3 linked regions of the Homo sapiens genome follow. The protein of the gene in region 1 purifies or fractionates together with the protein of each later gene. This does not show direct contact. Each region holds a gene or a part of one and is shown on either strand. Other genes may lie near its edges.

Region 1 (3,656 bases):
AGCCGGGCATGGTGGCATGCGCCTGTAATCCCAGCTACTTGGGAGGCTGAGGCAGGAGAATGCTTGAACCTGGGAGGCGGAGGTTGCAGTGAGCCGAGATCACACCACTGCACTCCAGCCTGGGCGACAGAGCGAGACTCCATCTCAAAAATATATATATATATATATATATATATAAATTTTTAAAGTCATAAAACTTTAAAATAATCTAATATAGCAGCAAAATAAATAAATGGAGCAAAAATTGTTAGGAACACAAGATTAGCTCTATTAGAAGACAACAAAATGGGAAAATCTGTCTCTTTCAGAAAACAACAGAATAAGAAGCCCCAAACTAAAGCTACAGAATTGCACGGCACCATTAAATAAACTTACTTAAATTCTTAAAAATAAATAAAATTTAATATTTTAATTTAAAACAGAGATCCCACATTCTTTAAAATGTCTATGAAGCTTTGACAAAACCAATCATTTATTAGGCCACAAAGAAAATTCCAACTTCCAAAAAGTCCTTCTTCCTGGATGACTACCATAAGGCCAAAACTTAGCAATCAAAACGTAAAACAACCACACACATACCCCCACCTCTAACCACTGAGAAGCTGAGCACCAATAACTAGATTTGGAGGTTAAAGTAAAAACTGAGAGATTAGGAAGCTATCAAACATTATTTGAAAAATAAAAACAGTACTGGTTCTTAGAACAAATAAAATTGTAAAACCTCTAGGAAGTCTGATCAAAGAGAAAATAAACATACGACATTAGGAATGAGGAAGTGGATATAATCACAAGTGATAAAGAGATTTTTAAAAATAAGAGATGATTGCTCTTTGCCAATTAAATTTGAAAATCTAGGTGAAATGAATGATTTCTGAGGAGAATACAAATTCCTAAATTTGATTCAAGAAGTTGTAGAAAACCTTTCTATACCAATAACCATAGAAAGAATTAAATGGGCAATCCATGCTTTATCCCCAAAAGATAAAGACCCCAATAGTTTCATTAACAAGGTCTAATAAAAATTATAAGGGCATTCTCAATTCATGTTATTTAAAGTATTCCAGGGCATTAAAAACATAGCAATACATTTTTTTCCAATATATTTTCCAAGAAAACAAATCCCTGATACCAAAACAAAATTAAGATAACATAAGAGGCTGGGTGCAGTGGCTCACACCTGTAATCCAAGCACTTTGGGAGGCCGAGGCAGGTGAATCACTTGAAAACAGGAGTTCGAGACTAGCCTGGCCAAAATGGTGAAACCCCGTCTCTACTAAAAACACAAAAATCAGCCTGGTGTGGTGGCGGGAGTAGTCCCAGCTACTCAGGAAGCTGAGGTAGGAGAATCACTTGAACCCAGGAGGCAGAGGCTGCAGTGAGCCGAGATCCTGCCACTGCACTCCAGCCTGGGCGACAGAGCGGGACTGTCTCCAAAAACTAAAAAATAAAAAAAAAAGCCATGAGAAGAGAATTACAAAGCAATATAAATTATAAACATAGATATAAAATTCCTAAACCAAATACTAGCTTATCAACTTTAAAATGTATTAGAATAATATTATCAACCATGATCATTAGGTTTTTACTTTGGGAATTTTTTTTTTTTTTTTTTTTGAGACGGAGTCTTGTTCTGTCACCCAGGCTGGAGTGCAGTGGTGCAATCTCCGCTCACTGCAACCTCCGACTCCTGAGTTCAAGTGATTCTCCTGCCCCAGCTTCCCGAGTAGCTGGGATTACAGGAATGTGCCAACCACACCCGGCTAATTTTTGTATTTTTAGTAGAGATGGGGTTTCCCCACATTGGTCAGGCTGGTCTCGAACTCCTGACCTCATGATCTGCCTGCCTCAGCCTCCCAAAAAAGTGCTGGGATTATAGGTGTGAACCACTGTGCCTGGCCTACTTTGGGAATTAACCATTGCTTTTACATAAGAAAATCTTGGCCAGGAGCAGTGGCTCATCCCTGTAATCCTAGCACTTTGGGAGGCTGAGGTAGGAGGATTGCTTGAGGCCAAGGGTTTGAGACCAGCATGGGCAACAGAGTGAGACCTGTGTCTACAAAAAAAAAAAATTTTAATAAAAAATAAATTAAAAAAAAGAATTCACTGGAAGAACATCCAAGAACAAAAAAAAAAACGAAAAATCTCTTAAGATTCACGAAAGATGAAACTATGTGAACATCTGAATAGTAAAAGTAAATTAGAATATAGTTCAGACACCAAAAGCAAATACAAATTGTACTTAGTGTTAAAACACTATAAATATTCCATTTTTAATTTTTATCTATTTATTTATTTATTTAGAGACAGGGTCTTGCTCTGTCACCCAGGCTGTAGTGGCATGATCATGGTTCACCACAGCTTCGACCTCCCAGGCTCAAGCAAACTCCCATCTCAGCCTCCCAAGTAGCTGGGACTACAGGCGTGTGGCACCATGCCCAGCTAATTTTTAAATTTTTTTTGTAGAGACAGGGTCTCACTGTGTTGCCCAGGCTGTCTTGAACTCCTAGGCTCAAGTGATCCTCCTGCCTCAGCCCCGCAAAGCACTGGGATTACAGGAATGAGCCAAAGTGCTCAGCCTTATTTTTTATTAAAAAACGAAAAAGAGATAAGAAAAAAAAGTTCCCTTTAAAGATCAGAATAAGACAGGGATACATGTGAATACTGCTGTTGTTGCCTGGATATCCTAAACAATTTTAAATCACATAAAAAAAACTATACGCATAATTAGGAAGAAACTCTACTGGTTTGCAGATCATCTAACTGTGTGTATAGGAAATCCAAGAGAATCAAATGAAACACAACTAGAGGCCAGGTGCAGTGGCTCACGCCTGTAATCCCAGTACTTTGGGAGGCTGAGGCAGGTGGATCATTTGAGGTCAGGAATTCGAGACCAACCTGGCCAACATGGCAAAACCCTGTCTCTACTAAAACTACAAAAATTAGCCAGGTATGGTGGCAGGCGCCTGTAATACCAGCTACTCGGGAGGCTGAGGCACAAGAATTGCTTGAACCCGGGAGGCGGAGGTTGCAGTAAGCTGAGATTGTGCCACTGCACTCCAGCCTGAGCGACAGAGCAAGACTCCGTCTCGAAAGAAAGAAAGAAAAACAACTAGAACCAATAAGAAAAAAGATTACTTTGATGAATACATTAAAAAGCATATCTAGAGAAATTAAATTTCTAGACCTAGAGAAAACAATAAAATCATATTTAAGGACACAAAAGGTTTGAATGAAAATCAGTAGATGCACCACATTCTAAAATTTCCATTCTCTCCAAATTTATAAATTCAATGTAATCCAAATGTAAAAATGAGACATTTTTCCCGTTTTGGACTGGGCAAGCCAGTTTCTTTTTCTTTTCTCTCTTTTTTTCAGACACGGCGTCTTCCTATGTTTCCCAGACTAGAGTTCAGTGGGTATTCGCAGGCATGATCATTATACACTACAGCCCTGAACTCCTGGGCTCAAGTGACGCTCCTGCCTTGGCCTGCTGAGTAGCTGCAATTAACAAGCTAATTTCAAAGTAAACAGGCAAGCTCTTTTTAAGAAGGTAGAATAGTGAAAGTGTACTGGCTTATGAGGTATCTAAACATACCACTAAGTTTCTGGCAGACAGATCAAAGCAACAAAATACATACAGTAGTTGAGTAACAAAT
Region 2 (3,656 bases), on another chromosome or scaffold:
AGAGATGGGGTTTTCCCATGTTGGCCAGGGTGGTCTCAAACTCCTGGCCTCAAGTGATTCACCTGCCTTGGCCTCCCAAAGTGCTGGTGTTATAGGCATGAGCCACCGTGCCTGGCAGACATTTTGATAAGTATTTTTAAACTTCTCTGTAGGAAGCTTGTATTATGTAACCCTCCCACCACAAGTAATGAAAGAGATTGTCCTTCTCACTGCATCCTTGCCAGTATTAAGTTTATTTTTTGTATTTTTTACTTTTTTAATACATAAAACACACCACCTCATTGTTATTTTAATTTGCATTTCTGTGATTAATAGTAATAACATTTATTAAACGTGTGCATTGGTCTTTTATTTTTTCCTTTTGAATTATGCATTCAGATATTTGGACAATTCTATTGGGGTGCTATTGTTTACTCACTGATTTGCAAGAGTTCCTCAGGGCTATCATGAACTGTCATGTCATGTTTGGTGTCAATATTGTTTTCCATGATTCTGTTCTGTTTAAAATGCATGCATTGCTGCATATGAGAGTTTAAAATATATTCAAATCTTTATTTTGCTTTGTGATTCTTCCCATTGATTTTATATTTAAAAAGTACTTCCCCTAAAATTAGTTAAATATTTTATTCTAGCTTTGTTTTCCACCTTGCATATAAACTTATCAATTTATGTGGAATTTCATTTGGAGGGTCATGTAAACAGAGGTTCTTAGTTGAATGCTTTCTATACACTTAGCCAATTTCCATGACGTTTTGTCAAATACTCCTCACTGTTTCATAATGCCTTCTTCGTCATATTTCTGGTTCTAAGAATGACCTAAATCTGTTTCCAGGCTCTTCTATTCCACTGAGCTATTAATCAATTCTTACACCAGTACTACATTGCTATAATGATTGTAGCCAATGATCAAATTTACTTTTGTTTCAACAATGGCGCCCATTACCACTACCACTTCCATCTACCTACCTTCACCCCCCAACCACCCACATCTACCACCCACCACCCCCATCCATACCACCTCATCCCACCACCTTCATGTATTCGTCTCCACCATCAAACTTCCCCCCACCTTTACCACCCCTAGAACTCCACTCTCCACACCACCTGTATGTACCACCACCTCCCATCTTACCACCACCACTCACCTCCCCCACCACCACTACTATTCTTTTGAAAAGTTTTCTTTTATTTTTATATGGTGATTCTTCCAGATGGATGTTAGAATCATTTTGTAAGGTTCTCCCAAATCCCAATGTAATAAAACTATATAATTGATCTGGGAAAAATAACCGTTTCATAATATTCATCTTTCTACCAAAGCATAAGGTATGTCTTTCTTTGTTTGCTCCTCAGTTTATTGGTTTGAGTAAAATTGTATAGCTTTCCACAAAGACTTTTATATATTTCTTATTATTCACGAGTATTTTATGTATGTTTCCTGTTTTTCCCACTCAATTTATATATTAGTGAATTCATGAATAGAATCATTTTCCATTCTACTTTTTAGTTAGTAAAACACTGGCATTTTGGGTGGCCATCAATTTTTGAACATGTATTTTATAACCAAAAACATTACTGAAATTTTGTACTAGTTCCTTTAGGCTTTAATTGATCCCATTGTGTATCCATCACTTTTAAACAAAATCAAGGCACACTGTCTAATTTTTGGTTACTTACATTAAAAACTTTACTTAAACATAGGCATTAAATGCTATTTTACTGTTTATTTTTAAAAATCACCCTTTTATGAGACTAATATAAAAATCTGAAATTGAAGCCACTTTAGAAATCTAAAACATAACATGTGTTCCTCTGTTGAACTACATTCATTTCCCTTGGGCACTCAGTCTTACTATTCAAAACTACAAAAAGGGCTCTGAATGAGAGACATTAAGTCACTTCTCACTTGGATTAAACAGGACAAATTTAGACAATTAAACGAAATAAAACAATTCAGGATTTTGACAGAAACACACCAGGAACTTGTCGCCTTATAAAGAGCAATTTCTCTCCTAATTTACCTCCAGAGATAATGTCCAGGATGATTTTTAAAATAAAACAGTGCCCACCTAGATATGGTGAGAAAGCAATTGCATGCTCTTCTATATATGTGCAGATACCTTTTTCCCCAGATAAGCACACATTTCCTATTTCAACAGATCAGAATAATAATACCAACAAATTATTAATTCACAAAATATTTGTTGTGCTCCTAGTAAGTGTGGGGTTCTGTGTTATTGGGAAAGATTAGAGGGTTATAGTGATGATTATGGACAGGAATTGAAGAGACACTGGCATATAACAGAAGCTCAACAAATAATTAAATGTATTATTTATTTATTATTATACATAATGATTATTATTTATTGTTTACCATTAATTTCCAGAAGACTGAAAGTCTAGCTCACCATTGTCTTCCAAGGGTGTAGCATGGCAAATATACACATGCAATAAATATTTGCAGAATATTTATTGACTGATTGATGTATTTTTACAAAAACCTCAGTTGCCAAAAAAATATTTTGACTCAATTCTTAACTTCTAGCCTAAATCAGTTCTTAAAAGATGCATTTGTTAAAGCCAAGAATACTCTCCTTTTGAAGTCAGAATAAGGTTCTAAATTGCTCTTTCTATACTAGAAAAGAAAAACCTTCTAAAAATCAGATCTTGAAGTTGGCACAGGAAAATGCTATGAGGCAGAGTATTCGTTCCTTCACTCATTCACCAAAAGTTCATTGAGCACCTTCTGCATATAAGACATAAAATAAATGGCCATTATAGAGCTTACAGACATAGCCAAACAAACAGGCATTTGCAAACTGGAATAAGTGCTGTGGAATAAAAGTGAAAGGATGATGAGAGAGTTGGGTCGGTGGGGAAGAGAGATCAAGGAAGCCCAAGGGATGAGTATGACCCAGACTGGTAAAATATAGAGGGAAGATGGTTGGGGATGTTCCAGAAACAGACAGAGGGTCAGTGTGACAGCATCAAGAGGAAGAGATGCACAAGATGAGGCTGGCCAAGTATCAGAGGCTCTAGGAGTCTCTGGAATCTGTCCCAGGTGTGTGGGTGGTATTTTATGTAGGGAACTGACATTATCCTCTCTGCTCTGGATGAAGGATTAGAAGAGCCAGGCAAGGAACCAGGGGTCTTGTTAGGAAGTTATTCTAGTGGTCCAGGTAAGAGATTATCATCTCTTGCAGTTTGATAGTGGTGGTGGTGGGGATAGAAATAATTTATCAAGATGTATTTAGAGATCTATAGAGAAAATAGCATTTATAAGACTGCATGATGGTTTTAAATGTGGAGGGTCAAGGGAAAGGAGGTGTCAAAGGTGATTCTTGGGTTTCTGGTTAAAGCAACTCGATGGATAGTGGTGCCATTTACCAGGTTAAGAAGGACTAGAAAGTTGTTAGCTTGCCTTTGTTGCTATTATTGTTTTTGTTATTTAATGCATTTTGGTTTTTTTGCATTTGTTTGGAAGGTTAGCAAGAAGGATGGAAGGCAACATCAACAAATCAACTGGGGGCACAGTATGTTTGAGATACTCTAGAAGATCCAGGTCCTGGGTTGTCTTGGCTCCCAGGTAAGTGACATGCATAAATGAGGTACTTTTGAACCCTGCTCTTCCCTACCATGGTTGTGTATATAAAGCC
Region 3 (3,656 bases), on another chromosome or scaffold:
TAATACTATGTATTCATAAATCACCAAAAATATACATTTCTATTACACGTATGGGTTACAGGCTTAAATTTAACCAATTCAAAACAACTCTATTAGCTAGATGTGATGGCACACACCTGTAGTCCCAGCTATTTAGGTGGCTGAGACAGGAGGATCACTTGAGCCCAGGGGTTCAACACCAACCTCAGCAACATAGAGAGACTCCCCATATAAATTTTTAAAAATTAAAATAGGCTGGGCGCCATGGCTCACACCTGTAATCCCAGCACTTTGGGAGGCCAAGGCAGGCAGATTTCTTGAGCCTAGGAGTTCAAGACCAGCCTGGTCAAGATGGCAAAACCCAGTCTCTAAAAATATAAAAAATCAGCCAGGTGTGGAGCCTGTAGCTCCAGCTACTCAGGAGGCTGAGGTGGGAAGATCACCTGAGCCTGGGAAGTTGAGGCTGTAATGAGCCATGATCGCACCACTGCACTCCAGCCTGGGTGACAGGAGTAAGACCCTGTCTCAAAAAATAAATAAATAAATAAATAAAAATAAAATAATCCTGTGCTCTAATATAGTTAAATCACGGGGAGTTTCTCACTTGAAACTTTTCTATCATAACTTTTTTATGATTTAATGCAGATATAACAAATATAATGCATGGGCAAAAGTTTTCTGAGTGAATATTAATGTAGAAAGTACCAAAACCTCAGTCTATGTTGTGTCCGGTGCTATGATTCAAACATATAGAGGGCCTACCAAAAGCTGATCTGCATTAGGGTGACTTTTGTGGAGGATGGAATCAGGTTGCATCTATAAATAACAATTAACTACAAGAGTACAGATTATATCCAATCTTATTTGATTATTTCCACCTATTTCCAAAAAAAGATGGAGGTGTTCCTGTCTCTATTAATAGATATTAGATAACAGAACAGAATTGTAGATATACATTGAATATAGAATTAGGTAATAGAAAATAATCTTAATAGAGCATCTATTGCTTCTTCCAATCTAATCAATATAAACTCACAGTCATATTTCTTATCCATTCCATCAGACAGATAATCTTGCCCCTTCCTACCCACCCTGCCAAAATTTCTTTAACCTTACCCAAGCTCTATTCCACATAGCTTAGAAACAATTTTAATCTCCACAAGCAGAGATCACCCTGAGAGTTGAGGGCCTAGATTAATTGGGTAGAACTGACTCAAAGAGTCATCAGCTACGGAAGAGGGAGAGCAGCAATTCAATAAACAATCACAGTTTAATCCACATAGATTTAACTTGGAGATAAGAGATAACTTGCAAAAAAGAGAACTGCTCTTAATTGCAATAATAAAATAATAAAAATAATAAAACAATAAATAATTTAAAAGCATGACGCCAGAATGTCTCTGGAATTTCTATATAGAAAGGACTTTTGGGCTGGATGCTGTGGCTCATGCCTGTAATCTCAGCACTCTCAGAGGCCAAGGCAGATGGATCACTTGAGATCAGGAGTTCAAGACCAGCCTGGCCAACATGGTGAAACCCCGTTTCTACCAAAGAATACAAAAATTAGCCGTGCATGCCTGTAGTCCCAGCTACTCAGGAGGCTGAGGCGGAAGAATCGCTTGAACCCGGGAGGCAGAGGTTGCAGTGAGCCGAGATCATGCCACTGCATTCCAGCCTAGGCAACAGAGCAAGACCCTGCCTCAAAAAAAAAAAAGAAAGAAAGGACTTTTAAGGATAGCAATTTGACTGGAAGGAGAGACAGAATATTTGGATATCAAGCTCCCAGTTCCTACCCAGATTGCATGTTTACTTAGGGTGACTTAGTGGGAAGCTGACGAAGCTAGCGGGTAGGGGATATTAAAGTCTCTTCAAGCTACTCCTTGAATTATACTGGCTGCTGTTCTCCAAAGTTCAAAGAGCTAGCCAATTTATTTTCAAATATTTTAAGTGGATACAATTCAATTTAAATAAAAAATCAGCAAAATAAGTATAAACAGACTTTCATCATAATCGGATTTTCCCAAAACCAATATTTGAAGCAAAGTGTCAGTAAGGTGGGTAGTTCTAAATGAGATCAGCACTCAATATAAAATATCAAAGTTCTCCTTTCTAACACCTCCAAGTTCTGAATACTCCTCACTGCTACAGCATTCTTCTTTATCTTTCTATGTATTCATTAAATAGCAGCAGAGTAAATCAAAATACTAATCTAACCCAGTGTGCACTCCAGAGTAAGTTATATTGCATTTGACTAAACACACCATGAACCCACTCTTAAAAAGGACGCACAGTAAAAGCCACCAGTGACATACCAAGAAACTTAAATGAACAACAAAAAATAACATACATTTGGCATCTGCCTCTCCTCTCCTCTAACTAAATGCTATGATAAATGCAATCAAGCAATTACTTTTTCTTTTTTCTCTTTGAGACAGAATTTCACTCTGTTGCCCAGGCTGGAATGCAGTGGTCTCAAACTCAAAGGCTCAAGTGATCCGTGGGCCTCGGCCTCCCAAAGTGCTGGGATTACAAGCATAAACCACTGCACCTAGCTAGCAATTACTTTTCAATAATTTTGGATCCTTCACATACATAAGGCCCATAACTGATTAATTCAGAGGCCATCTTTGGGGGCTTTATTTAGAGGAAAAAAACAAAGTTATTCATAAGAAAAGTTATTGGAATTATTGTTGTTTAGCTCACAAAATAAAGTGATTCCATGTTCAAGTAATTAAAGAAAAAATTCAAATATAGAGGTAGCAATGAATCCACATCTGAATATGCATTTAACCAAACACAAACTTGATGAAACTCAGAAAAATACAGGCCATTGGCTGGGTGTGGTGGTTCATGCCTGTAATCCCAGCACTTTGGGAGGCGGACGTGGGCAGATCACGAGGTCAAGAGATTGGAGACCATCCTGGCCAACATGGTGAAACCTCGTCTCTACTAAAAATACAAAAATTTAGCTGGGTGTGGTGGTGTGTGCCTGTAGTCCCAGCTACTCAGGAGGCTGAGACAGAAAAGACAAGAAAAACAAAAATACACTGGCAACACTTATGCTGTCCTGCCTCTTAGATAACAAGGAAACAGACTGTGGTCTACATCTATGCTCCTCTTGATTTCAGAACCAAACTCAGCCTCTCATGGCCACTGATATTCTAAAGTTATGAAATCAGATTAGCAATATGAAACTGGATTACTACATTAAAAAAAAGTAAGCAAACTCTATCATTCACACCAACAATTACACACCAGGCATGGTGGCTCATGTCTGTAATACAGACTAAGCTGGGCACAGTGACTCATGTCTGTAATCCCAGCACTTTTGGAAGCAGAGGTGAGACGATCATTTGAGCTCAGGAGTTTGAGACCAGCAGTTTGAGACCAGCCTGGGAAACAATAGCAGGACCCCGTGTTTTAAAAACGAAAAAAAAAAGCTGGGCATGGTGGTGCACGTCTGTAGTCCCAGCTGCTCAGGAGGCTCAGGTGGGAGAATCACTTGAACCCAGGAGTTCAAGGCGGCAGTGAGCCAGGATCATGCCACTGCCCTCCAGCTTGGGCAACAAGGTAAGATCCCTGTCTCTAAAAACATATGTATACAGGGCCAGGCACGGTGGCTCATGCCTGTAATCCCAGCACTTTGGAAGGCCGAGGCGGGTGGATCACGAGGTCAA

The links.
Region 2: the proteins of HIGD1A (region 1) and PAK5 purify together in Homo sapiens (co-immunoprecipitation; one large-scale study listed by IntAct). This does not show direct contact.
Region 3: the proteins of HIGD1A (region 1) and EPB41 purify together in Homo sapiens (co-immunoprecipitation; one large-scale study listed by IntAct). This does not show direct contact.

The regions. Positions count from the first base shown.
Region 1 is NC_000003.12:42,787,445-42,791,100, forward strand, and holds part of HIGD1A (HIG1 domain family member 1A, mitochondrial), read right to left. Parts: intron 1-3,656. UniProt on the Homo sapiens protein: Proposed subunit of cytochrome c oxidase (COX, complex IV), which is the terminal component of the mitochondrial respiratory chain that catalyzes the reduction of oxygen to water. May play a role in the assembly of respiratory supercomplexes.
Region 2 is NC_000020.11:9,832,456-9,836,111, forward strand, and holds part of PAK5 (serine/threonine-protein kinase PAK 5), read right to left. Parts: intron 1-3,656.
Region 3 is NC_000001.11:28,917,507-28,921,162, reverse strand, and holds part of EPB41 (protein 4.1), read right to left. Parts: intron 1-3,656. UniProt on the Homo sapiens protein: Protein 4.1 is a major structural element of the erythrocyte membrane skeleton. It plays a key role in regulating membrane physical properties of mechanical stability and deformability by stabilizing spectrin-actin interaction. Recruits DLG1 to membranes.